Linked DNA regions of Homo sapiens: regions 2, 3, 4 and 5 are each linked to region 1. Evidence: fine-mapped expression QTL. A gene starts in region 1. Each other region holds a variant in brackets. All regions are shown on one strand. Distances are between the middles of the regions.

Region 1 (5,101 bases):
TTCCTCCCTTCTCTCAACACATGGTTCACACCAGCACTGCATAGGTGCTGCATGACTGCAAGTACAGACGTGAATTACCGTGAGTTTCCGAGGGGTTGGTAAAGGCCAGAAAGTACTCAGAGAAAACTATGGCTTTAAAGGAACTTCCAACAGCCTGATGTGTTGAGCCAAAGCACTCCCGCCCCGTTTTCTCTTCTTACGAAAGAGGAAGTGAGATTAACTTTACCATTTAGGAAAGTACAGAGGAGCCCCCAGAGTGCCACCCTCTACCAAACGGTGAGAGGTTCACTGGGGGGCCCCGCTGCTCCCCAGAGCCTGAACTGCAACTTGGCTTGGCCTCCTCCAGGCCAGAGAGAAGAAATGAATGGGAGTTTATCTGAGGTCGGCCTGGGGGGTGACTCAGAGGTCTCAAGGCCTACCTGGGGCCAAGCAGGCATCCTGCGGGTTCAGCGTCAGGCCCTGCTGACACAAAATCAGGTGCCAGGTGTCCCCAGGCCTCAGTCCCTTGCCCTTCTCCCAGCCTCAGAATCTCCCTCAGTGCAGTTGTTTTAGGAAACAGGCCTCACATTGGGTCCAAAAACATAGGTTGGTGACTTCACTGGGATCTTTTTAGAATTTCCCTTTGGCAGCATTTGTGCTAAAAGCAATCTTTAGAAACTTCTTCTCTTGCCTCCCCCACCCAGGATAATTCACATGATTGGCCCCACCCCCCCAAAACAGTGATCATGTGAAGACACAGGAATCATGTGACACCTCCCAGGCTGACAGTTCTGCCTGAGACACTAGTAGTCATTCAATCCAAAGCCGCCTTCCTAAACCTGACATTTTAGTTTCTCACTCGAACAAATCCATTTTCTTAGAAAATTGGACAACTGCCTCCTTGTACCTTCCTACCCTCATATCCTGTCTCTCTACTTCTTTGTTGTAAATTCCATGTCTGGAGCAATAGGGGGAGGGGCCTGAGGCCCCATCCTTCAGCCAAACCAGGTGACTTCCCTGCCCAGGCCCATGGTGTGACCAGGACCCCGAAGAACAGATACTGAAGGATAATGGGAGACTTGAGCTATGATGGTCGCACCTCATCCCTTCCCCACCACCCTCGACCAAGAAATTCATTCTTACCTCCTAAGATTTATTTATTTCAAAGCTAATCTTGGCCCCTCTGCTGCTCCCACTTTTTCAGGCTATTGATGCTGAATGGATTGGAACGGAAGTTTTATGGCCCAATCTTTACCATCTTATAGACTGTTTTTATAGGCAAAAGGGGGAGATGTGCTCACAAGAAAGGTGTTGGTGTTCCCAGCCGGTGCCCCAGGAAAGGCAGGCTGCCCATCGGAGCACTTGCTAATCAGCGTCACTGCTCGTTTGCCAGGGACTGAACCACAGCCTCCTGGTCGGAGAAGGGTCTGGAATAGACATTTAGAAATTAACTCGGGCCCAATTCCCTGCTTCAGGAAAATTAAGCACTTGTGAGTGACACTTGTGCATTTCCAGGCCAGGAAGGATGGCAGGGCAGGAACTCGGACTTTTGCAGGGTACAAATGGCCAGCTCAGGCAGGAAGGAGCAGATAGGAGATGCCACTCACTGGAGAGACGTGAACTGTATCAGTGCTCCCTTCAGCCCAGCAAGGACGCAACTATAACTGAAAAGAACTGGGGGTGGAGGGTGGGGTGGGGTGGGGGGATGCCTATGTGAATTCCTGGGTTTCAGGGGAAACTGCAGGGCAGAGAGAAGCAGCTGTCTACCCCCCATACTTCTCCTTCCACCCACTCTTTGCTAGTTCTCCCTTTCTCCCTGCTATCAGATGGTTACCATCTCTAGTCAAACGCAAAAGGGGGTGTTGGACACTGAGCTCATCTTTACCTCCCTCCTCAAGGGTGGGAGGTACAGAGAGACCCCACTGCCTACAACACAGTTTCAAGACGACAAAAAACAAGATCCCCATTTTTCTCTCCCTCCCAACTCCCTTAATGCCATTTCTCTGCTCCCCCCGCCCCCCACCCGGTGCCCTCCCAGGAGACCCATGGTTTTGCAAAACCCATTTAAGAAGCAAGACTCCTGAATGGTGACCTCACCCTTTGGTGAACATGCACAGTAGCCTTCAGAGCCCGCCTGCCGGCGACAGCCAGGTGTTTGATGTAGGCCAACAGAAAGACATGGTCAGAGCCACAGGTAACATCCCCGCGGAGCACCTGAACTGCAGGGAGCTGCCTGGAAGCTCGGGGAAGGCAGGAGGAAGGGGGAGCTGGGAGCGCCTCAAGGAGCAAGACCACCAGGGAGAGGCTTTGGCAACCACAGGGACAATCCACCGTGTTTTTACATAAGGATCTGTTGCTCGCAGCAGCTCGCTCTGGGGTTACCGCGGCCTCCCGGCTCCCTCTCTCCCAGGCACACACTAACACCGGTTTACTCTGCGCACCAGAGGGAGGGCTCACTCTTCCCTAATTGCAACAGCTTGTCTCTGTTCCATTCCAGGCAGCATCGGGAGGACCTCTGCCCTCACCTCCTCCCCTCACACCCTGAAGTCAAACATGTGGAAAGTCGTATGTCCATGGGGACAGATTCTGGGGAAGCCGGACGGCCCTGCTCTGAAAGCCACTGTCAGTCAGCCTTCCCCATTGGACCGGGCAGGGGCTGAGTGAAGCAACTCGGCTCTTTTGTCTCAGTGCCCAGCACAGTGCACAGAGTCAGAGTCCACAGAGACAAACTCTCATAGAAGAGACTTGGGTTCTACCCTTGGCTGTGTGACCTTGGGCATGTCGCTGGCCCTCTCTGGGCCTCAGTTTCTGCATCTATAACCCTGGTTACAGGCGTCTCTCCCCCTATTACTGCTCGGCATTAGCCGAAGGGGTCCCAGTGCCAGTCTGAGAGGCCTGAGCCCGCAGTTTGGGGAGTGCAGCGGTGGGGAGCGGGGGGGTGCTTACCTGACCAGGCGCAGGACGCGGCGAGCAGCAGGCAGAGCAGCGGCCCGAGGCGGCCGGGGGCCGGGCCGGCGGGCTCCATGGGCCGCGGCTGCGGAGCGAGGAGGGAGAGCGGCCGTGAGTGCGCGCTCGGGCGGGAGCAGGCTGGAGCGGGGAAATGACTAAGGCTCCCCCCCTTCCCCCCTCCCGGCTGGGCCTCCCCCCGACTCCGGAACGGGCGCCTGGAGCGGCCGCCGCCGCCGCCGCGGTTTTTGGAGACCCCCCCTCCCCGCCCCCCAGGAGAAATGGAGAGACGGAGACTGGGAGAGACCCCAAGCGCGCGAGAAATAAAGCCAGGGGCGGCCAGAGAGAGGCGGCAGGAGAGAGAAACAGACCCAAGGGAGCCAGGCAGAGAGCCAGAGACACGGAGAGGCGAGAGGGGGAGAAAGAGGGGGAGAGCGAGGAGCGAGGAGCGAGGCGGCGCGCAGACCGACAGACCGCGCGGGAGAGAGGACCGCGCGAGCAGGGGCGAGGGGCAGCACGGCCGAGCCCGGCCGCGCGGAGCCGCCCCCGCCGCTGCCCACCTGCCCCGCCCGGGCTCCACACGGCGCGGGCGGCTGGGCTCGCTCCCGGCCCGCAGTCCCGGCCGCTGCCCCCGCCCTCCCGGCAGCCCGACCCCCTCCCTCCTTCCCTTTCCCCTCCTCCCGTCTTCCCGCCGCCCGGGGAGGCTTCGGGGCTCCGGCCCCGCCGGCACCTTCTCTGCGAGCGAGCGCCCGCCTGCGCGCCCCGGGGGAGGGAGCGAGGGCTGCGAGCTGCGCGCCCGGCCGGGGAGGGCAGCGTCCTCCCCCGCGCCGGCGCCCGGGCCCCGGCTGCTGTCCCGGGAAGGCGGCCCCGCGAGCCGCCGCGGCCCGCTGGGGCTCGGGACTAGACGAGCCTCCGGCTCCGACAGCGTGCCCGTTCAGAAGCCCGCGCGGCTGGTCCCCAGCCCCGACCGGTCCCGCTCTGCCCCTCCCCGTCCCTGCCGGGCCCGGACCTGCGCCGCCCGCGAGGGCTGGAAGGCACTGGAAGCGCCGCCGGGGCTGCCCAGAGGCCGGGTCCCCGCTCCACTTTGCGCAAACTTGTTTTTCTAAGGTCAGCGCTGCGAGCTGGCTACATCGTCCTCTTAAGGTGGACCGGGGAAGTTGCGGCCGACCTCCCCTCGCCTCCGGACTCCGGCCGCGCGGCTGCTCCCCGCTTCCCACTGGCGAGAGGCTGGAGGCGGCGAAGGAGTCGGGGCGCGGGGGCGCGGGGGGCGGGGGGGCGTCTGCCTTTTAACCCTCCCCAGGAGGTCGTGCCTCTGAGCCCCAAAGCTGAAGGCCCCTCTTGGGGGTGGGTGCGGGCCGGAGGGGCCCGATCCTTTCAGAGCCGGGCCGAGGTGAAGGAAAAGAAGGAAGTAAGTGAACGCAGGGGGAAGGGGAGAGGAAGAAGAGATGATGGTACAAAAATAGCGTGTGTGTAGGAAGGACTTCGGTGCCGCCTGGAAAAGAGGCGCGGGGAGGAGAGGGAGCGAGAAGGGGGCTGTGGCGCGCAACCAGAGGGGAAGGGTCGGGGCCTTCCCAGGGAGGTGGAGGCCCCCTGGCCAGGTGTCTCGGTGGTGGAGGGCGGACTGGGCGGGTGGGAGGCCCAGGCCGGGGCGTGTGTGGGAGAGCGGGGCCCTGAAGGCCTGGGTTCCGGGAGAAGGACAAGCCCTGAGGAAGATGAGGGGAAGGGGAGCCGGGGCCAGAGGCCTGGAGTTGGAGAGGACAGAACCCCGGTTTTCCCGGAGGGAACGCCGTTCCTGTAGTAGCCAGGTCAGTGATGGGGAGTGCCAGTGTCGTGGTCACCTGGCAGAAGGCTCCGCACTGTGGGAGGAACACAAGTTCAAGACCCCGCTGCTAATGGGAGAGAATTTTGGTTCACACAGTGGCGGTTAAGAGGACAGGAATGACACAAGGTGAGAGAAGGCCCAACCCTGTAAATGGACAGAAAGTTGAGGCCCGGAGAGGGAATAGGTTTGCTTAAGGCCACACAGCAAAGCTTGGGGTAGAAACAAGATTTGAATTCCTGATTCCCAGGTTAAAGACCTGTGCAAAGTAACACCACTGCCTCCCCTCCTGCCCCGAGCCTCCTGGTGAAGGCATGGCCCTGCTGTTGTGCAGGGGGGCAGGGAAGGTGCCACACT
Region 2 (5,101 bases), 58 kb before region 1:
CATTGAAGAATAATGACTTGAAAAATGTTTTTGAACAATTGTTAAGAAATCTTGATTAAACAATTATATGCATATTCATCATAATTAATACTTCTTGTGTGCTTTACTAATTAACTCATATAATCCTTATAATAATAATAATCTTATGAGGCAGGTACTGTCCTTGTGGACTCAGAAGTTGCATCATGGAGAGGCAGCCTAACTTCCCTGTGGGCAGGTAGTGGGTGGCAGAGCTGGATTCCAACTACTGGTGCTCAGGAAATCTTAGAACACTGAGTCCAGTGCTTCCCAAGGTGTGGTCCCTGGACCAGCAGCCCCACATCACCTGGAACTTGTTAGAAGTGCCAAATCCCAGGCCTGGTCCCAGACCTCCTGATCAAAAGCTCTGGGGGTGGGGCCCAGCAATCTATGTTTGAGCAACCCTTCCAGGTGAATGTATGCTCAGTTTTGAGAGCCACTGTGCAATTGTAAGGGCCGAAGGGAAGCTTCTCCTCTGTCCTCTTAAGGTTTGCTGAAAACGAACTATAATAGACAGATTAGTAAAAGAAAAAGGCATATGAAATTGTATTTAACAAGGCCAGGCATGGTGGCTCATGCCTGTAATTCCACACTTTGGGAGGCCATGGTGAGAGGATCACTTGAAGCCGGAAGTTTGAGACTACCCTGGGTAACAAAACAAGATCCTGTCTCTACAAAAAATTTTTTTAAAAAATTAGCCAGGCATGGTGATATGTGTCCACAGTCCCAGCTACTTGGTAATCAGAGGCAGGAGGATCACTTGAACCCAGGAGTTTGAGGCTGCAGTTGAGCTATGATTGTGCCACTGCACTCCAGCCCAGGCAACAGAAGAACATCTTGCCTCTCAAAAAATAATAATAATAATAAAATAAATTATTTAATGTGAGTAACACAGGGGAATTATAGGAGAATGATTACCCAATAACCCTTATATGCCCTTCTTCATCGGGGAAGGGGAAATGGGAGGTATAGGAGTAAGTGACTTTTTAGGGGAAATGAGTGATCCTAAAGAACAACTGCCTGAGACAAAATTCTTCTGAGCTCTGGGGGAGGTGGCGGGAAGGTAAGGGGCAGACCTTCACTGTAAACAAAGATTGTCTTACTATGCAGATGAAGCGTCCCAGGTGATCTCTAGGAGCTGCTCTCAGAAAAACAAATGAAAGTCTGTCTGAGCACGGTGACTACATCTAGTCTCTTTTCCAGTGGTTAATCTTTCCTGGTTATTTGATGAGATTCCTAGGGACGGGGAGTTTTAAGAAATTGCATTTCTCTTGGAAAGAAGCTTTCTTAGGCAGATAAGAAAATTCCAGCGACAGCCCCTCCTGGTGCTTTGGGAAAGTAAGAGGATCAGAGAGACAGGGAGGCAGGGCAAGGTCAGAAAGAGACCTTGAAACCGCTTCTTCAGTTCAGCACGTCAAAGCGCCAGATTCTGGGGTATTATTTTCTGAGCCTGAATACAACACTATTGCATCTTTTCTCGAAATTTTGTAAAAAGAAAGTATATGTATGTATAAAAAAGTCTGATGGATTGGTCATTAAAATATTAACAGTGTCACTTCTGAATGGTGGGGTTCTGGGTGATTTTTTTATATATATTTTTTTGTTTTATAATTCCAAAAGGTACATAATGAACTTCTGCATCCAAAGTAAAAGAAAAAAATACATGTTCTTTAAAAAAAAAAAAAAAAGAAGAAGGGGCCAGGCACAGAGGCTCACGCCTGTTATCCCAGCACTTTTTGGGAGGCCAAGGTGGGTGAATCACTTGAGGTCAGGGGTTCAAGACCAGCCTGGCCAACATGGTGAAACCCCATCTCTATTAAAAATACAAAATTTAGCCAGGTGTGGTGGCACAGGCTTGTAATCCCAGCTACTTGGAAGGCTGAGGTGGGAGGATCGCTTGAACCAGGGAGGTGGAAACTACAGTGAGCTGAGATTGCACCACTGCACTCCCCTGGGAGACACAGTGAGGCTCTGTCTCAAAAAAAAAAAAAAAAAAAAGGAACTCCGCTTCAATACTCAGTGAGATGGTATATATTTTGGGTAGAAGGGAAGTAGAGAAGAAAATGGTTCCCCTAAATCATACAGCAACTCCAGCAGTTCTTCTTCAGTGTGAATGAATCACCAGGGGGTCTTGTGAAAATGCAGACTTGGCCGGGTGCGGAGGCTCACGCCTGTGATCCCAGCACTTTGGGAGGCCGAGGCGGGCGGATCACGAGGTCAGGAGATCGAGACCACGGTGAAACCCCGTCTCTACTAAAAATACAAAAAAATCAGCCGGGCGTGGTGGTGGGCGCCTGTAGTCCCAGCTACTCGGGAGGCTGAGGCAGGAGAATGGCATGAACCCAGGAGTCGGAGCTTGCGGTGAGCCGAGATCGCGCCACTGCACTCCAGCCTGGGCGACAGAGCGAGACTCCCTCTCAAAAAAAAAAAAAAAAAAAAAAAAAGAAAGAAAAAAAAAGAAAATGCAGACTCAGTGAGGCTTGCGGCTAAGATGCTGCACTCCCAACCAGCTCCCAGAGGATGCTGAAGATGCTGGTCTAGAGTCCACACTTTAAGAAACAAGAGACCAGAGAGACGGAGGCTCTTAATCTCCAGAATGCAAGCTTCACGAGGGGCCTGGTCCCATGATGTGTTTCCAGTGCTGAGAACGGAGCAAAGAATAGTTATCTAATAAATAGATGGAGGTGCGGCAAGCCTCCTCATTCCTGGGGACCCAGAAATGGGGGTTCTGGTCATGGTTCTGTATCTGCT[G/A]CCAGTAATACCTTTGGCAAGCTGCGGCCTCCCTGTGATGACAACTGTCACTGGGCAGGGTGACAGCTCTGGACCCTTCTTTCCCATGACCCAATATGCAAGACCGGTTCAGCCTGGGCCAGGGCTACCCAACATGTCAGTCTTGCACCAAACAAAAAGTACCAGGAACTTGGTAACACAGGTGTTCTGAGAAGCCCAAAGAAAGGAACTAGAGATGAAGAAATATCTAAGTTGAGGTTTCCGTAGAAACATTAACTCATCTGCATAGGCTGCATGCTGCATTTGGATTACAGGTTAGGCTCGTAAGCCTGAAATAAATTATATACTCTTCGTATTATTCAACACTGTACTGTATAATAATAAATTATACAGTTATAGGCCTCAGCCCAAGTTATAACAAATTATACCACAGTGTATAATTACCCTGCACTGCACCATATAATAATAAATTAGACAGCTACAAACCTAAGTTGTGACTCCAGAAAGAGGAGAATGAATGGGGGCTACTGATCCATTCCTCTGACCAGTCAGATAAGCCCGGAGCCTGAGAATGAAGAATTTAATTGCTTATTCCTTCCTTCCTCCCTCCCTCTCTTCCTTCCTTCCTCCTTCCCTCCCTCTCTCTTTTCCTTCCTTCCTCCCTCCCTCCCTTCCTTCCTTCCCCTCTTATTCCTTCCTCCTTCTCTCTCTCCCTCCCTCCCTTCCTTCTTCTTTTCCTTCCTTCCTTCCTTCCTTCCTTCCTTCCTTCCTTCCTTCCTTCCTTCCTTCCTTCCTTTCCTTCCTCCCTCCCTCCCTCCATCCCCCTCTCATATTTGAGTGCCTCCCTGGTTTTTGGTGTAGACTTGACCATGGGAGCCTGAGCTGACTTGGAACGAGTCCCCATCTTTGAGGGCTCCCAGGCTGTGGGGTGAAGAGCATGTAAACTGAAAATGAAACAGTGTAACAACAGCTGCTGTGGAAAGAGTAAATTAATCACAGCGGCCTTGGTATCAGGTGTCTACCAGGTAGCAGGCATCAGCACAGGTGTTAACTCCTCATGCCCTGGGGGTAGGTATCATCGTCTCCATTTGACAGGTGAAGCGAGCAGAGCTAACACAAAATGTGACTCGCTTAAGGTCACACAACTATTATAGAAATGGTGGGTGGGAATTTTCACCCAGGACTGTCTATCTGACGGTTAGATTTCTCTGAGGGTGCTACCCAGTCGAGTCAGCTTGGAAAGCAAAAATCAAGTGTCATGAAAAGTACCCCTGGCAAATCCTCAGAGACACTAGGTTGGGGACTGATATTCAGTCTCCTAGTGAGTCCAGCACAGTTGGGGTTCCCTGCAGCCCAGGAGCAGGTTCCTCTTCCTTCCACAGAGGGTACTGGCTGGGGTAATACTGGACCATAATATAATCTAGTGCCAGTGTGGATTAGGAGCTACTGTGAGGACTTCACAGGTGTTAAGCTCATTTTATCCTCTCAACAACCTTATGAGGTTGGTACTTTTCTTATGCCCACTTTACAGGTGAGGAGTCCCAGGCACAGAGGAGTTAGCAACTTGCTCGGGGTTGTACAGCCAGGAAGTGGCGGAGCTGGAGTCTGAATTTGGAGTAGTCTGGTCTGCCAAGTCCCTCATTCTTTCCCACTATACTGCCAGTTTTTTGGGTTTTTTTCCAGCTTATCTTTAAAGACTTGTCCTTAGGTAGCTGTAGGATGAGGGGCCTATGGGGACTGAGCCTCAGAGAGCAGATTCTGCCTCTATCTCATAACCACTTAGGGTGTGTGCCCATTGAGCCACATGGTCCTTACTTAATTTCTTTCTCTCTTCTTGTCTTTCTTTCTGTATTTTTTCTTTTTTCTTTTGTCTGAAGCACACGTTAAACTTGCATAAGCTGTAATTTTATTGTAATCAAACTGTCAAAGAGGCCCAAAGTGACAGGGAAGTGAATGCAACTGCCTCTCTTCCTGCAGTGGTCAGGGAAGGCTTCTGGGAGGAGGTGGCATTAAAGGCATAAAGGGTGAATAGGAGTTTAAACAGCACACAAGGAAGGCAGGCAAGAAGAGTGAAGGTACAGGTGAGAAGAGATTGTTTTGGGAGGGACTCTTAAGTCCTTCCAGGTGGCTGTGTGAGCTGGGCAGGAGGCGAGGTGGGGTGGCAGACAGGGCCTTTCAGTGCCTCACTAGGGGAGCTGGACTTTATGTTAAAAGCAGCGACCGTCAATGTGTGGACGGTGGGCTCCTTGGGGATGTCCGAGCTCCACACTGTAGCCAAGACAGGGAAACCAAGGCCCCGTAAGGCTCCTCAGCCTGTCCCACCCCACTCAGTTCCCCAAGGCTCTTCCATGCT
Region 3 (5,101 bases), 58 kb after region 1:
CAGATGATCCCTGATAGAAACACTTTTGTGGGTCCCATTTTATGGAGAATGAAACCCACAGTACATCACTCAGTCTTCAAGTCCCTGCCTGCTCCGGCCTCCAGTTACTCTCAAACTCATCCCCTGTCTCCTCCCTCCATTGCAGCCACACTGATCTCCTTGGGGCTTCTTGGCCACATGGAGCCCTGCTCTGACCTCAGCGCCTTTGCACCTCCTGTTCCCGCTAACTGGGACACTCTTCTCTCTACCCTTTCTGGTCAGTTCCATCACATTCCTTCTGTCTCAGGCGAATGTCACCTCCTCAGAGAAGTGTTCCCTGACTACCCTAACCGGTTCCTCCACCGAGTCACTCTTAGCTGTTGCTTTGTTCCTATATTTATTGTCTTCCGAGTCACTCTTAGCTGTTGCTTTGTTCCTGTATTTATTGTCTTCCGAGTCACTCTTAGCTGTTGCTTTGTTCCTATATTTATTGTCTTCCGAGTCACTCTTAGCTGTTGCTTTGTTCCTATATTTATTGTCTTCCGAGTCACTCTTAGCTGTTGCTTTGTTCCTATATTTATTGTCTTCCGAGTCACTCTTCGCTGTTGCTTTGTTCCTGTATTTACTATCTTCCGAGTCACTCTTAGCTGTTGCTTTGTTCCTATATTTATTGTCTTCCGAGTCACTCTTCGCTGTTGCTTTGTTCCTGTATTTACTGTCTTCCGAGTCACTCTTCGCTGTTGCTTTGTTCCTGTATTTACTGTCTTCCGAGTCACTCTTAGCTGTTGCTTTGTTCCTATATTTATTGTCTTCCGAGTCACTCTTAGCTGTTGCTTTGTTCCTGTATTTATTGTCTTCCGAAGGAGACTGTGAGCTTCCTGAGGGTAGGTCCTTGTTAGCTTCCTGTTCTCAGCTCGGAGGAGGCACATGGCACATAGTAGATGCTCAATAATATTGTCTGGCTGGATGAATGAAGGTGTCTGAGCACACGCAGCCATTTTCCTCGTTATTCCTCCCTGTCCTCACAAGCTAGGATTGTGATGCCCTTTTGAAAGATGATGCGATTGGGTCTCAGAGAGTTTGGGCAAGCTGCCTGGACCACACAGGCAGTGAGCAGTGTGTGTCTGTACGTCCTTTGTGTGTCTATGTGTATGTCTGGATGTATCTCTGGGTGTCCAAGTGTCCTCTGTGTGTGTCTTTGGATGTCTGTGTGTCTGTGAGTCTCTGGGCACCCAGGTATTCCTATGGATTTGTGTATGTCTGTGTGTTTGCAAGTACCTTTCTTTGCTATGCACATGTGGCTGCCATGTGCATATCTCTGTTTCTCTGTGTGAGTCTGTATCTGTATATCATTGTGAGTCCCTTCATGTCAGCTGTCCTAGTGTCTCTGTGTGCCCCTAAGCATGTGTGTCCACGGTCCAGCTCTGTCAGCTCTCCCAGCCCCCACTCGGTGGTCCATGTCATTCCCTGCTGCCCCAGGCTCCTCCAGGGCTCTAACAGCCTGTCATCTTCCAGCTGTGGGGTCCCTGAGTTCTTTGGGCACCTGGGGAGCTGGAGCAGAGGAGAGAGGCAGACAGTCAGGCAGGCACTGTGCATCCCTGGGGCCCACAGACCCCAACCCATGGAAACCCTCGCTAGCCCCAGGATTGGCTCCTGACTTAAAATTGCCAATCCCTGATTGAGCTGCCAGGAGCCCGCACTGGGCTGGTTCCCATGGCAACGTGGAAGCTGCCAGGCCTCCCGCTCATAAAACAGGTCATAAAGCAGGGGGATGGGAGGAGGATCAGGGGCTGCCCAGCTGAGGGGGGGCTGGCTGCCTGGGAGCTGCTGGGGCCACTTCCCTTGGAGACCTGGCCATGCACCTGTTGGCAGCCAGGCCAGGTTCTGCTCTGCCCCTCACACTGAGCAGCCTCTTTGTGAATAGGAGTCATCATGGCCTCTAGTTCTGCCTCTAGGTACGATGTTGCATGGATCCAGGAATGCTTTGGGTGAAAGGGCCCAGCAGGACTGAGGCCTGGGAGTGAGCTCTGTAACCCTCTGTCTCCCCATCAGTAAAACGGAGAGCGAAGGGAAAGCAGCATGGTGAGTGGAAAGAACCAGGCTTGAGAGTGCACTGGGTTCAAACCCAGCTCCACCTGCAAGCTGTGGGACCCTGGGCAAATGGCTTCAGTCTCTGAGCCAAACTTGTTCACCTCTCAAATGGAGACAATAATGGCGTAGAATATTTGTGAAAATTAAATCAAAGTTTATAAAAACTTCTGATGGTGCCTGGTCCAGAGACCAGCTGTGGTTGTTAGAAATAATAGCAGCTATTATAATAATAGTGATAATTGTGTGCCAAGCACTTGTCTAAACACTTTACACGCAGCAGTTTATTTTATCCTCATAGGTGATAATTATTCCCATTTCACAGATGAGGATGCTAAGGCACAAGAGGTTAAGTGACTCACTCAAATCACAGAAACCAGAGGGAGAACTCCGGTTTAGAC[A/G]TGGAGTTGGGGTGCTTTCAGCCACAACCCAGTACTGCCTCTCTCTTCCCTCCCTGCAGAATCAGTGAGGCTAGGGGAGGAGTCAGCATGAGCCCCAGCCAGCCTCCTCAGCTTCAGGGCCTCCCCACTGCAGCCACGAAGAGGAGAGGGCTTGGCGAGCGTGGGCTTGGTCCTCCAGAAGGACTTGGGGAGGCAAGTTGCAGGGATCACAAAACAACCTCCTTCAATACCCTTTTCCCATTGCTCAGAGGGAGAAATTGAGGCCCAGAGAGGGCTAGTGACTTGCACAAAGTCATATAGCGAGATAGTAGCTGCAAGGATTCAAACCCAAGTCCCTTTCTTTGGAGCCAGTTATACTCCCAATAAGCCCTATGGCTGCCCAAGTACCCCAGGCCACTGGCAAAATTGAGAAGAAAGCAAAGCAATAGGGGCAGCAGTAATTCCTGTGTGTTGTGGATTTAGCAGGTATTGGGTATCACGCTGCAACCCTTCACGTGCACCTTGTTTAGTCCTCGCTGCAGTCCTATAAGGTTAAGGCACATGATACACATTATCAGCATCATCCCCATTTTAGAGATGAGAAAATTGAGGATCAGAGAGGTTATGTGATTTCCTTCAGGTCAATTCAAGAGACTTGAACCCAGACCTGCTGATCCCAGAGCGGCATACAAGGACCCAGCCCTCAATCCTGGGGTCTTTCTGTGGTGTAACTCTTGGGGCGTGCCCATGGGGGCTGCCTCGTGCTGACCACAGCAAGGCCCAAGGAATGAGCATTTCTCCGTCCATCCATCTGTCTACCTACCTATCCGTCTGTTCACTCAATAAATATTTACCCAGGGCTTTCTCCATGCCAGGCAATATTCAGGCATTGGGAGGCATACAGCAGTGAACAAAGCAGGCAGTGCCTGGCTTCGTGGCCCTCATACCCTCGTGGGGAGAGGCAGACTATAAACAGAGAAACAACAAAGATGTGTGTCAGGTGGTGGTGAGGGCTATGGAGAAAAACAAAGCCAGAGGAGGGGGCAGCGCAGGATGGCGGGGTCGGAGAAGGCTTCTCTGAGGAGGTGACATTTGAGCGGTGATCTGAAGGAGGTGAGGGCTTGGGCCGTGTGGGGATCACTAGAGAGGGGTTTCTGGCAGAGGAAATAGCGGGAGCAAAGGCCCTGAGGCGGGAGCGTGCCTGGCATGTTGGAGGAACAGAGAACAGGTCAGTGCAGCTGGAGACGGCAAGCAAGCGGCAGGGCGTTGGGGAGGTGGAGAGGTCAGTGGGAATCAGACCAAGGGCGGCCCTGTCAGGTTTTCTTCTGAGTGAGATGGAAGCCATTGGAGGTTCTGAGCAGAAGCGTGGAATCATCTGATTGAGTTTTTAAGAGCATCTTCTGGCTGCTGGAGTGAGGATGTACTACAGGGCTCAAAGGAAGAGGGAGCGGGGGTTAGAAAGGCAAGGTAGTATGTGGGTGTCAGATGGCAGAGGCTAGGGCCACGCAGAGTGAAGGAGGTGGAGAGGGAGGCCAAGATCTGAATATATTCTAAAGGCTAAGCCACAGGATTAGGGTCTGAGAACCCTCTAGGATGGCTCCAGGTTTTTGGCTTAAACCAGAATGAAACTGTCATTTATGCAGGTGGGGAGGACTGCTGGAAAAGCAGTGCGGGCCCGGGCTTTGCACATCTCAGTTCGTTTGTGCCTTATATTCCTCAAGCATCAGAATCACCGGAGACACTTGTTGAAGTCCAGATTTCTGGGATCCTCCACCAGAGCTTCCCATTCAATAGAGCTGGGTGGGGCTTGAGAATGTGGATTTCTAATCAGTTTCCAGGTGATGGCGATGCTGCCAGTCACAGGACCTCACCTTGAGACCCACAGATTGTTGCAGCTGGGGAAGTGGAGGCTCACAGCTGGAAGGCGACTGGTAATAAAGTCATAAATTGAGCCAAAGCCTCTTCAGTCCTTGGCCAGCTTCTGGACCCTGATGGAGAGAGAAGGGAGCCCTCAGACATTTGTCCCCAGAGAATGAGAAGTGGGTGTGGCTGGAGCTCCTAGGGACCCTCTGGTTTCTGCTTCTGTTTCCATGGAGGCCATAAAAAAGGGTAGTGGCCGAGCGTGCATGTGACATGCATTCTCTCCAGCTTCTCCACCCCCGGGTGTAATCCTGTCTGGCTTCCCTGAGCCCTGTGCACAGGAGGGATTCTGGAGAAGCTTGCTGCAAGACCCAGCGGTGTCCTCATTCCTTTGTTTTACAACCGTTTGCCGTGTTCGCATGCCGCAGTTGTCAGGAGTGCTATCCACCATCTGGGTCCATTTCTGGGTCTCCTCATGTGGGGTGCGTGGAGAGGCTGTACTTTCCAGCCTTCTTGAAGTTAGGCACGTCCTTGGCACTTGATTTCTGCCAAGATCTGTGAGCAGAAGTGAGGTGTGTCTCTTTCTGATGGGAGCCTCAAGAGCTGGTGAGCAATTTTTTGTCTGCATCCCCTGCCAGGGAGACTGGCGGGTTCTTCAAGGGAGGGCTCGCCAGCCTGGGCCCCTGACTGTGGACGTTATGGAGGAGAAGCCTTGCCAACTGGAGATGGACAGGGAACCGGAGTAAGAAGCAAACCTGTGTTTTTTTAAGCCAAGGGTTGGCAAATTTTCTTGG
Region 4 (5,101 bases), 29 kb after region 1:
CTTCTGCCTCAACCTCCCAAGTAGCTGGGATTACAGGCACCCGCCACCATGCCCTGCTAATTTTTGTATTTTTAGTAGAGAGGAGATTTCACCATGTTGGCCAGGCTAGTCTTGAATTCCTGACCTCAAGTGATCTACCCGCCTCAGTCTCCCAAAGTGCTGGGATTACAGTCATGAGCCACAGCGGCTGGTCGAGTGTGATACTTCGTTATGGCAGCGCTAGCAAATTAATCCAGTGCATTTGCTCATCCAGTCCTTACAAGATCTGCACAGTAAGTCTCATAATTACCCCATTCTGCAGATAAGGAAACAGGCTCAGAGAGGGACAGCGACTTGCCCAACATGACCCAGTTCAGCTCTGTTCTGACCCCAAAGCCAGAGGCAGCGTGCAGTCTAGTGAGAAGATGGGCTTTCACAAGCAAAACTGATGAAGCTGCCTTGGCCATCTGCCCTCATGACTGGGCAGTGCTGTGTGAGCTCAGAGGACCAAGGGCTCCATTTAGGGCAGTCAGCCAGGCTTCCTGCAGGAGGCAGAAGCCCCTGGGCCTTGCAGAGTAAGTACAATTTCGTTAAGGATAGTGAAACCACAGAATTCAGGGTAGACAGCTGCTGTTCAGGGGTGTGGAGGGAGGAATCCTCATGGCCTCCTTGGGTAGGTGCCTCAGTTGCTCATTTGGACAGAGCACAGGGTCCAAACTAGGTCATGGCCGGTCGGGGGAGGAGAGGAGGAAGTGAAGAATTGACGCCAGGTGAATCATCTGGCATGTGTAGTGTGAAGTTATCACATGAGACTGGATTTTAATGTTTTGGTTTTAGGACCCCTTTATACTCTTAAAAATTACTGTGGACCCCAAAGAATTTTGTTTATGTCAGTTTATCTATTGATAGTTACCATGTTAGGAATTAAAACATTTAAGAAACACACTTGGCCAGGTGTGGTGACTCATGCCTATAATCCCATCACTTCAGAAGGCTGAGGCAGGCAGATCACTTGAGGTCAGGAGTTCGAGACCAGCCTGGCCAACATGGTGAAACCCCATCTCTACTAAAAAAAATACAAAAACTAGCTGGGTGTGGTGGTGCGCACTGGTAGTCCCAGCTACTTGGGAGGATGAGGCAGGAGAACTGCTTGAATCTGGGAGGCAGAGGTTGCAGTGAGCTGATATCACACCACTGCACTTCAGCCTGGGCACAGAGTGAGATCTGAAATAAAAAAGAAAAAAGAAGAAGAAAGAAAGGAAAGGAAGGAAAGGAAAGGAGGAAAGAAAGAAAGAAAGAAAGAAAGAAAGAAAGAAAGAAAGAGAAAGAAAGAAAGAAAGAAAGAAAGAGAAAGAAAGAAAGAAAAGAAAAGAAAAGAAAAGAACACTCCATTAGTTGTCAAAGCGAGGTCATCTTCCTAACAATCTTCTAGTGTGTTACTATTATAATCCCATTTTACAGATGAGAAAACTGAGGTCCAGATAAGCTGAGTCATCCAAAGTCTCACAGCTACCATGTGAACTGAGCCAGGATTTGAACCCAGGCATTCTGCCTCCAGAGCCCAGGCTGTTAACTGCTGCATCATGCTGGACATGCTGCACCTGCCCCCATTCCTACCCCAGGTATGGAGTTTGGACATTATCCTAGGAGTCTTGGGCTAAATCCCTGGAGCCTGTCTATAGCCAGTAGAATGGGGTACAAGGAGTTAAGCTTTCCCGAGATGAGATTTCAAACCGTGAAAGGGATGCTTTACCCCAGAGGCACACCAGGCATCCCACACCCACCTCCACACAAGACAGGGGTGAGAAGTCTGCTCTCACAGCCAAAGCCTTTGAAATGTTATTTCCTGAAGTGTTGCCTCACCCCTACCACAGCTCAAAGCCTCTGGGACTGGGGCTCCCTCCAGGAAGCAGCTGGTCCCCATCCTTCCTCCTGCATAGAGCCTGGGACCAGCCAGGACCAGAGATAACTTAGCTCTCTGTAGGGTATAGGGCAGGATAAGTCCTGGCTAAAATCTGCCCTCCCACTGAAAGCCTTGCCCAGCCCACATGCACCTTGATTTAGCTCATTTTTACTGTATTTGCAGGGGACCTCCTGTGTGCCATGACGCTTCACAATCAGAACCTCGCTTAAGCCTCATGACAACTTTATGCATCTGGTCATTTTGCAAATCCAATCAATCAATACGGAGCACTTGCTATGTTCCTGATGCTAAACTAGATACCAGGGACACGGTGCAGAGGATGAAGACAGATAAGGACCCATCTCTTGGGGAACTTACCGTCTAGAGAGAGAAGACAGCCAGACGAGGAGAGAGGCAATCGTGGGCAGTGCAGGAGAACAGGAAACACAGGGGGCTTTGCAAGCACAGAATAGGGACTCAGTAAATATTCGTGGTTGAATGGAAAGCTCTTAGGATAATGGCTCTCAGGTAGCTCTCCAATGTGCCAGCCTATTGTGTTAGTTAGGGCAGGATAACTGCTGTTACAGACAACCCCCAAATCTCAGTGACTCATAATCTGTTTACTTGTCACTCAGGTCACAGTCCAGTGTAGGTCAACTCCTCATGGTCACTCAGAGACCCAGGTCCTTCCATCCAGGGGAGGGGATCTTGATTTCTTTTTTGATCTTCTGCATCCCCCGGCAGAGGAGAGGAAAAG[A/G]CAGGGTGTGGAGGAGCATGGGGGAGGTTTTATGGGCAGGCCTGGAAGGGATTCATGGCCAATTCACCTGGTCTTGTGTGGGGGTGTAGGTAGTGACCTAGGAGTGAAGGAAGGAGCAGTGTCATGCCCAGCAGTTCCCCCAGGTGAATTCAATGGAGGAGAGGTGATTTTCCTAAACAATGAGGGTTACTTAGGAAGGGGGCATGGATTCTGGGTGGTCACAGCCTTCTAACCGGTATATATTCACTGCAGTATGCTAGTCAGGATTCTTTTAGCTTCAACTGATAAAAACCCAACTCAAACTACTTAAGGAAAAGAGGGAATGTATTGGTTCTGGTCTAGGAAGGTGGTTTCAGGAATGGCTGGATACAGGAACTCAACAGGGTCATCTTTTCTGGTTGGCTTTAGCCTCCAGGCAGGCTGTCAATGTGTGGTAGGGAAGCAGGCCACCAGCAGGTACACCCAAACATGTATGCAACAAGCCCAGCAAGGCTGGCAGGAGCGAGGCATATGTATCATTTATCTGTGTACATCTATAATATGTATGTCATATATCATGTATCCTCTCTATATATCATATATCCATGTACATATCACATATGTCATATATTGTATATCCTATATATATCATATATATGTCATATATCCTCTATACACATCATACATCCATGTATATATATCTATCATATACATGTCATATACCTACATATATTATGTATCCATATCTATGCCACATACTCATCCCAGAAAATCACTTTGGTCCTGAATGGGACCCATGACCACTCTTGTTTTGGTGATCTTGATGGAAACCCCAAGTTTACATGGTGTGGAGGAGGGACCATTTTCCGAAAAAGGGACTCAGACAGACAATACCGTCAAGTTCGCTACAGGAGAGATTACTAGATCTTTCCAAGAACATTGGGTCTATCTCACAGTCCTAGGTGTCAAAAGGAAAAGAGAAAAGCAAGGTGTCAAAAGGAAAAAAGAGGAAACTTGAGAAAAATAGGTGTCTAATCTCTTTGTTAATAGCCAATTTCTAGGAGCCAGGTATGGACTATGTGATTTTTATGGCATCTACATATAATGTTGCTTTCTTCCTCACTTAAGTTCAGAAGCAGTAGGAGACCGAGGAGTCAAGAGGTGAGGAACAAAATGTCAGCTTATTACAGATAAAGCTGTTTAGAGAACGTGGCTTGGGCATGCAGGCAAATGGAACTGCTAACACTGATCCTCAGAGTTGGACAGCCTTACCTTTGCAATCACAGGTAGATGGATAAACACAGACCTCTCCCCTCTGACTCCTGGGACAGAACATGTCTTCACAGGTAGCTGATCCCAGGTTGAGAGAGGGCTCCCCTCTTCATACTCACCAATCATTCAGTCCAGGTTTGTTGCTCTGATGGAGGCCACCCCAACCCCCAGCCCCTTTTCAAATGTGCACCACAGTAGGGAATGAGGCCAGGACCTGAGACCTGGCTGCCTGGTGGGTAGACCCTGGAATGTACAAGCAAACAGCCCCTAATGCCAGGAGCTCCTGGTTCCCGAGGAAACAGATGAAATTTGTGATGGGCAGAGAGTCAGAGAAAGAAGCATTCTTGTTTTCCTTTATTTTTTCAAAAATGACTATTCGAATAATACAATCCACTGTGAAAATTTTAAAAGGAAAAAAAAGCCAGGAAAGAATTGTAAAACTGCAAGCCACCTTCAATTCCATCATCTGGTGTTAACTATCATTACATGTTGGTGTATATCCCTTGGGCCTTTGTGAGTGTGTGTGTTTAAACAAAATTAGAATCTTGCTCTATGCATAATTTTTTATCTGGCTCTCTTTAACATTCTATATAAAGCATTTCAGCATGTCCACAAGGCTGGAGGCAGCACGAGGGCAGGAACCAAGTCTGCTTGATGATTGCTGTCTCCCCAGGGCCTCCCATGTGGACCATGCTAAAAAACAATATTGCAGAAAAGAACGATATTCACAGGTAATATTGATTAGGTGACTTCTAGGCATCACCATGCATCATCGAATTACATTCTTACAAGATAATGCAATGGGCACCTCTATGAACCATACCTTGTAGAAGAGGAAACTGAGGCCAGGGGAGGTGAAGTAGCTCACACAAGGTCACCATCAATGTTATATCCCTGCATGAACACATCCTGTATGTGCATCTTCCTACTTGACACATTTTCTTCTTGCCACTTTCCAGTTTTAATCAGGGATAGAGGGAAGCTCTGTTTACTTGAGAGAGGACTCTTTATTTGGAAAGAAGGTCTATCCCATTATGAGAGGGGGATGTGCTGAGGACTGTCACCCAGCCTTTGAGCCCCATTGGGATTCTTTTTTTTTTTCTTAATTTTTCTTAAGACAAGGTTTTGCTCTGTCACCCAGGCTGGAGTGCAGTGGTGGGATCTTAGCTTACTGCAACCTCAAACTCCTGGCCTTAAGTGATCCTCCTCCC
Region 5 (5,101 bases), 49 kb after region 1:
TGGCACAATCTCTGCTCACTGCAACCTCTGCCTCCCAGGTTCAAGCAATTCTCCTGCCTCAGCCTCCTGAGTAGCTGGGATTACAGGTGCCCGCCACCATGCCTAGCTAATTTTTTATTTTATTTTTTTTAGTAAAGACAGAGTTTTGTCATGTTGGCTAGGCTGGTCTCGAACTCCTGACCTCAGGCAATCCTTCCGCTTTGGCCTCCCAAGTGCTGGCATTACAGGTGTGAGCCACTGCACCCGACCTCTTTTTGATTACCATGAGCTCTAGAATGCTGCATTCCTGAGGCCATATCCGGGCTCAGGGGGGAAGAACACCCTGATCGTTTAGTGATGTCTGCCATGGACAATGGGAGCAGGGCATGCCTGCCAATGTGTTGTCATTATCCTTGTAATATAGTGCAGCTGAATAAGGAGGGAGAGCAGAGGGAGCTGTGGGAGCCAGCAGGGAGCCTAGCCTGGGGTGAGTTCCAGCCATCTGGAGAAGACGGCAGTGACCCTGGAGGTGACAGAGAAGTGGGAGTTTGCCAGGTAGAGAAGGGCAGGAAGAGGATTCCATGCTAGAGCAACCTGGAGGAGCAACTGTGCAAAGTTCTGCAGGGGTGCTTTAGGTACAGCTTCTTACAGCTGGCAAGTACTGTGGTGGTGGGGTGGGGGGACAAGAAGGCCATGAAGAGTGGGACCAGATCACACAGGGCCTTGAAGGCCACTATTAATGTTCTAGATGTTATCCCAGGCCAGGGGGAGCTATGGTGGAGTTTTAAGCACTCGCTGAGTGACATTGTCACCCTCTTCAGAATGGCCCATTCCTGCTCTTAGTGGGGTGGATGGGAAAGGGTTGGATGGATGCAGGGGTACCAGCAGGAGCCCATGACAGCCGTCAGGTGGAGGGCAGGAGCCAGATGGGGCAGTGCTGTGGACAAGTGGCGGCAGGAATCAGGCATCTGAGTCGAGGTGTCTTGAGGAGGTTGCCCGCCTCCCCTCTCATGAATGTTTAGGAAGTGAGATGAGGGCACCTGGGGCTGCAGGGACCAGATTCTCCAGATGAATCTGCTGCCTCTGAGTAAACCAACAACTAGAACCTTACAGCTGTGGAGCTGGGGGCTGCTCAGAGCAACCTTGAGCCTGCAGCTGCCCTGGGCTGCCTGGAGGGTGAGGAGCCTACAGGGCTGGGCTCTGGGGAGATGGACCTTGGCCACCAGCTACCCAACAAGTGCAGCAAGATTCCCCTGGCAGGTGGGGCCAGGTGAGCAGCTTCACTCCTGCTTGTCTGGGTTGGGGCTCCTTGAAAAAAGTTTGTGGGAGCCTGGCTAGCCCTAATAACAGCAACACATATAAAAACAATAAGAGCTCTCCTGACATCAGCATAGCCATCATAATGCACCCCAAATCTAAAAGCTGCCATCATCTCTATGGCTACCACCTTCATCCCAGGTGCCATATCTCACCTGGATCGTCACCACAGACTCTCCACTGGCTTCCCTGCTTCCACCCTGGGCCCCTCCAGTCCATTCTCCAGGTAGCAGCCAGAGGAATCCTGTTAAAACAGAAGTCAGGTCATGTGGCTCTTTTGAAGGAAATCCTCCAAAGGCCTCCATCTCACAGCTGAAGCCAAAATCCCTACATGATAATCTGCTTCCCTCCTGGGGTGGTGGGGGGCCACCTCCCATTTACCTTCCTCTCTGACCTTGTTTTCCATCATTCAAGATCATTCCTCTCTGGCCACCTCAGCCTCTGGGCTTTCCCTGGGGCATAACTGTCTGTGAACATTTATGCCCCAGGACCTTTGCACCAGCTGTTCATTTTGCCTGGAATGCTCTTCCCCCAAATATTTGCCTGGTTCCTCTATTACCTCCCTTGGGTCTTTGCTCAAATGTCACCTTCTTATTGAGGCCTTCCCTGACCTACCGCCTTATTTAAAATTGCATCCCCTGAATCTACTCTTCTTGGCCTGCTCCCGTGCTTTTTCTCCATAGGACACATCACCACCTGATATGGTTTGGGTGTGTCCCCACCCAAATCTCATCGTGAACTGTAGCTCCCATAATTTCCATGTGTCATGGGAGGGACCCAGTAGGAGGTAACTGAATCATGGAGGTTGGTCTTTCCTGTGCTGTTCTCATGATGGTGATAAGTCTCATGAGATCTGATGGTTTTATAAAGGGGAGTTCCCCTACACAAGATGTCTTGCCTGCGCCATGTAAGACGTGACTTTTCTCCTCATTCACCTTCTGCCATGATTGTGAGGCCTCCTCAGCCATGTGGAACTGTGAGCCAATTAAACCTCTTTTCTTTATAAATTACCCAGTCTCAGGTATGTCTTTATTAACAGCATGAGAACAGACTAATACACCATCTAATATACTATGTATGTATTTTACTTATTTAGGAGTCTGATCCTTCCCTTAGGTTGTGTGCTCCCTGAGGGCAGGGACCTTGTCCTTTTCATCACTGTTGAGATTCTAGCACTGTAAACACTGTCTGGTGCATAATAGGAGCTCAATGTACTTCTGTTAAATGGTTGAAGGAATGGTACTACTTAATCCAATGTGTCTGACACTGGCCTTCACCCTCTTAACAAATCTAAGAAAGCTAC[G/A]TTGTGAATTTTCATTCTTTTCTCTTTTCAGTTTGGAGAATTTCTGTTGACCCATCACTAAGTTTCACTTTCCTCCTCTGTGTCCAGTCTGTTGCTAATCCCATCAACAGAATTCTTCCTCTTTGATATTATCTTTTTCTTGCTGGTTCCAGCACTTCCAGTCAGCTCTCTCTCTCTTTTGTTTCTCATAGTTTCCTTCTCTCTTCTGAAACTTCCCATCTGTTTATGTATGTTGTCTACCTTTTCTGCTAGATCCTTTAATCTATTTATTACCATTATTTGAAAGCCCCTGTTTCAGAGTGGATGATCATTTATTGAGTACTATATGTCAGACATTGGGATAATGGATGACTTTAACCATTTTAACAAGTTGAATTGGATGAGAAAATGGAAGTTTCATAGTAGGAAGTGACCAGGGGGTGAGGGCATTGGGATTCCAACCTCAGACTGACAGCAGAGCTTTTGTTCTGTTAGTCTGCCTTTAGCTACCAGCTCTCCCAGAGACCTGGGCTCAGTTCACCAGTTTATTCACAATGAAGGATCCAGGTGGCCGGTCCCCATGGCACCTCACTGTGGCCAGGTCTCTGAAGAGTAGAGCCAGCTCAGATGCAAGCTTCCCCACTTGGCCTTCCAGACCCCTACCATCTGGCCCCATCCACTTTTTCCTTCCCATTCCCAGGGCTCCCCTGCAGAGAGCCAAGCTGGCCCCTTCCTCTGCCAGAACCACTCTCCACCTTGTTCTCCATCTTTCCACTCCATCCCAAACATGGCTCTTCTGTGTCTCATTCAATGAGCTGGGTCACTTAACATGTATTTAATCAGCTTGGATTCTGGTCTCTTCACTTACCAGCTGTGTGAGTTAAGTAAACAATTCGCTTCTCTGTGCCTCAGTTTCCAAACCCATGAAGTGGGGACAATGGAAGGACCTATCTCAGGGAAATGGCATGAGGATTGGCAAGTTAGACCATGTATCAATACAGAACCAATACAGTGCCTGCCTCTCAGCCAGTCCTTAGTAAGTGTTAGCCATCATTAACAGTGACAGCTATGATGTGGGGACACAAAGGTGGCTCAGGCCTGACTCTGCTCTCTTGGATCCCCCAATCCCGAGGGGCATCAGGCGTGTAAACCCAATCCCTGTGATCAGGGATAGAGATGGCACAGGCCGGGGACAGCCTGGAAGAGGGGCACTTCCTTTGCCTGCCTGTCTAGCCACTTGGCCGATCAGAGGGACAAAGTCACTGGGCTGTGAAAAGTCCAGCTGGCCAGGCCATGGCAGGAGCCCCCTCCTGCTGGCCCTTCCTCCAGTCCCCACCCCAGCCAGCCACATTTGCTCTTGTCAGGCAGAGGAGGCTGGGCACTGCACATGCGGGGCTAAGACTGAGGTTGTGCACACAGAGACGTAGGTAAGGTGTGAACTTAGGCATGCCAACTTGCATGCTACGAGGCATATCAGCTGGGGCAAGTGTGCTCAGTCAGCCAGATAGACCCAGACAGACACATGCACGCAGAAAGAGCCCTAACATCACAACGGCTCACACATGGCTCCTAGTATGTGCCAGGCATCAATCCGAGCATTCCACATATATTCATTTGTTTGATCCTCACAACAACCTTATAAGGTATGTTTTATTAATATGCCCATTTTACTGATAAGGAAAGTGAAGCAGAGAGGGGGTTGAGTAATTTGCTCAAGGTCATACCCAGTAAGTGGCAGACCTAGATTCCAACCCAGGGAGTCAGGCTACAGAGACAGAACTCTTAACAGCTGTGCAGATCCATGAAACACATGCACAATGACACACACTCATTTTGGACATGCAGACATGGATACATGCCTCCTGATGAACATGGATACCTTCCCAGGTATGTATAAACACAAAGACAAGACGATGTATAAACACAAAGGGATGTATAAACACAAAGACAAGGGATGTATAAACACAGAGATGTATAAACACAAAGACAAGATGAAGATGCCCATGCACACTTGCATTCACACAGTTGGGGAGGGCTAAGTAAACCACTGTTTAACTTGTGGGCAGCAGACTCAAGACCCCTATGCAGCCATAAACACTCAGGCAGACACACTCAGAGGTAGGAATGCACATGCTGTGTGTACACGTGCTAAGACTCCTTCCACAACCAACACACAGAGAAACGGAAAACAGCAATCACGATGGATTCTTATAGTATCTGCTCAGGCTCTTAGCTGACTTCTCAGTTTCCCTTCCTCTCTACGGCAGCAGCAGCCCCAGAAGGGTGGGGGCTTCCCCCATGTGATTCCCCAACGTGTTTGGCGCAATGCCTGGTAATAACATACGCTCACCCTTTCTGGCTTTCCTCACTAGAAAGAGTGTCAGGCCCTTTGCAGTTAAAAGCTTCACTTTACAGTCAGACAGGCCCAAGATATTGCTCTCAGCTGCCCTACTTGTGAGGCAAGGGATTTCACCATTCCAAGCCCACCACTCTCCCCCTAGAACGTGTCCTAGCCACGGTGGC

Alleles and levels. Alleles are on the strand shown, and positions count from the first base shown. SD is a standard deviation of normalised expression in the study named. Not every link is listed here.
As copies of A replace G in region 3, the expression in monocytes of the gene that starts at base 3,045 in region 1 goes down (moderate effect, 0.56 SD a copy in BLUEPRINT).
In carriers of allele G in region 4, the expression in unexposed skin of the gene that starts at base 3,045 in region 1 tends to be higher than with A alone (small effect, 0.22 SD a copy in GTEx).

The links. PIP is the estimated chance that this variant, and not a neighbour inherited with it, causes the effect. A credible set is the group of variants that fine-mapping cannot tell apart.
Region 2: its variant is the best candidate, but not a certain one, in a credible set for the expression of SIRPA in whole blood (TOPMed, PIP 0.87).
Region 3: its variant is the best candidate, but not a certain one, in a credible set for the expression of SIRPA in monocytes (BLUEPRINT, PIP 0.83).
Region 4: its variant is the best candidate, but not a certain one, in a credible set for the expression of SIRPA in unexposed skin (GTEx, PIP 0.67).
Region 5: its variant is the best candidate, but not a certain one, in a credible set for the expression of SIRPA in whole blood (TOPMed, PIP 0.90).

What each region holds. Positions count from the first base shown.
Region 1 is chr20:1,893,351-1,898,451 of GRCh38, reverse strand. It overlaps SIRPA (signal regulatory protein alpha), which reads right to left and starts at 3,045. Exons shown (of 8, transcript NM_001040023.2): 1 at 2,926-3,045. The coding sequence starts at 3,004. It overlaps LOC102724545 (a long non-coding RNA gene), which reads left to right and starts at 4,202. Exons shown (of 4, transcript NR_186374.1): 1 at 4,202-4,333. RefSeq lists an enhancer at 1,885-2,400 and silencers at 3,692-3,811, 3,822-4,081.
Region 2 is chr20:1,951,563-1,956,663 of GRCh38, reverse strand. All of the region lies in intron 2 of PDYN-AS1 (PDYN antisense RNA 1), which reads right to left. Among named protein-coding and RNA genes, the nearest start is that of PDYN-AS1, 6.9 kb to the right of the region's middle. RefSeq lists an enhancer at 2,062-2,151. The variant G/A (reference allele first, on the strand shown) is at 2,770.
Region 3 is chr20:1,835,335-1,840,435 of GRCh38, reverse strand. It overlaps LOC105372501 (a long non-coding RNA gene), which reads right to left. Exons shown (of 4, transcript XR_001754475.2): 4 at 3,895-5,101. Among named protein-coding and RNA genes, the nearest start is that of SIRPA, 58 kb to the left of the region's middle. The variant A/G (reference allele first, on the strand shown) is at 2,469.
Region 4 is chr20:1,864,433-1,869,533 of GRCh38, reverse strand. No RefSeq gene overlaps it. Among named protein-coding and RNA genes, the nearest start is that of SIRPA, 28 kb to the left of the region's middle. The variant A/G (reference allele first, on the strand shown) is at 2,640.
Region 5 is chr20:1,844,662-1,849,762 of GRCh38, reverse strand. No RefSeq gene overlaps it. Among named protein-coding and RNA genes, the nearest start is that of SIRPA, 48 kb to the left of the region's middle. The variant G/A (reference allele first, on the strand shown) is at 2,600.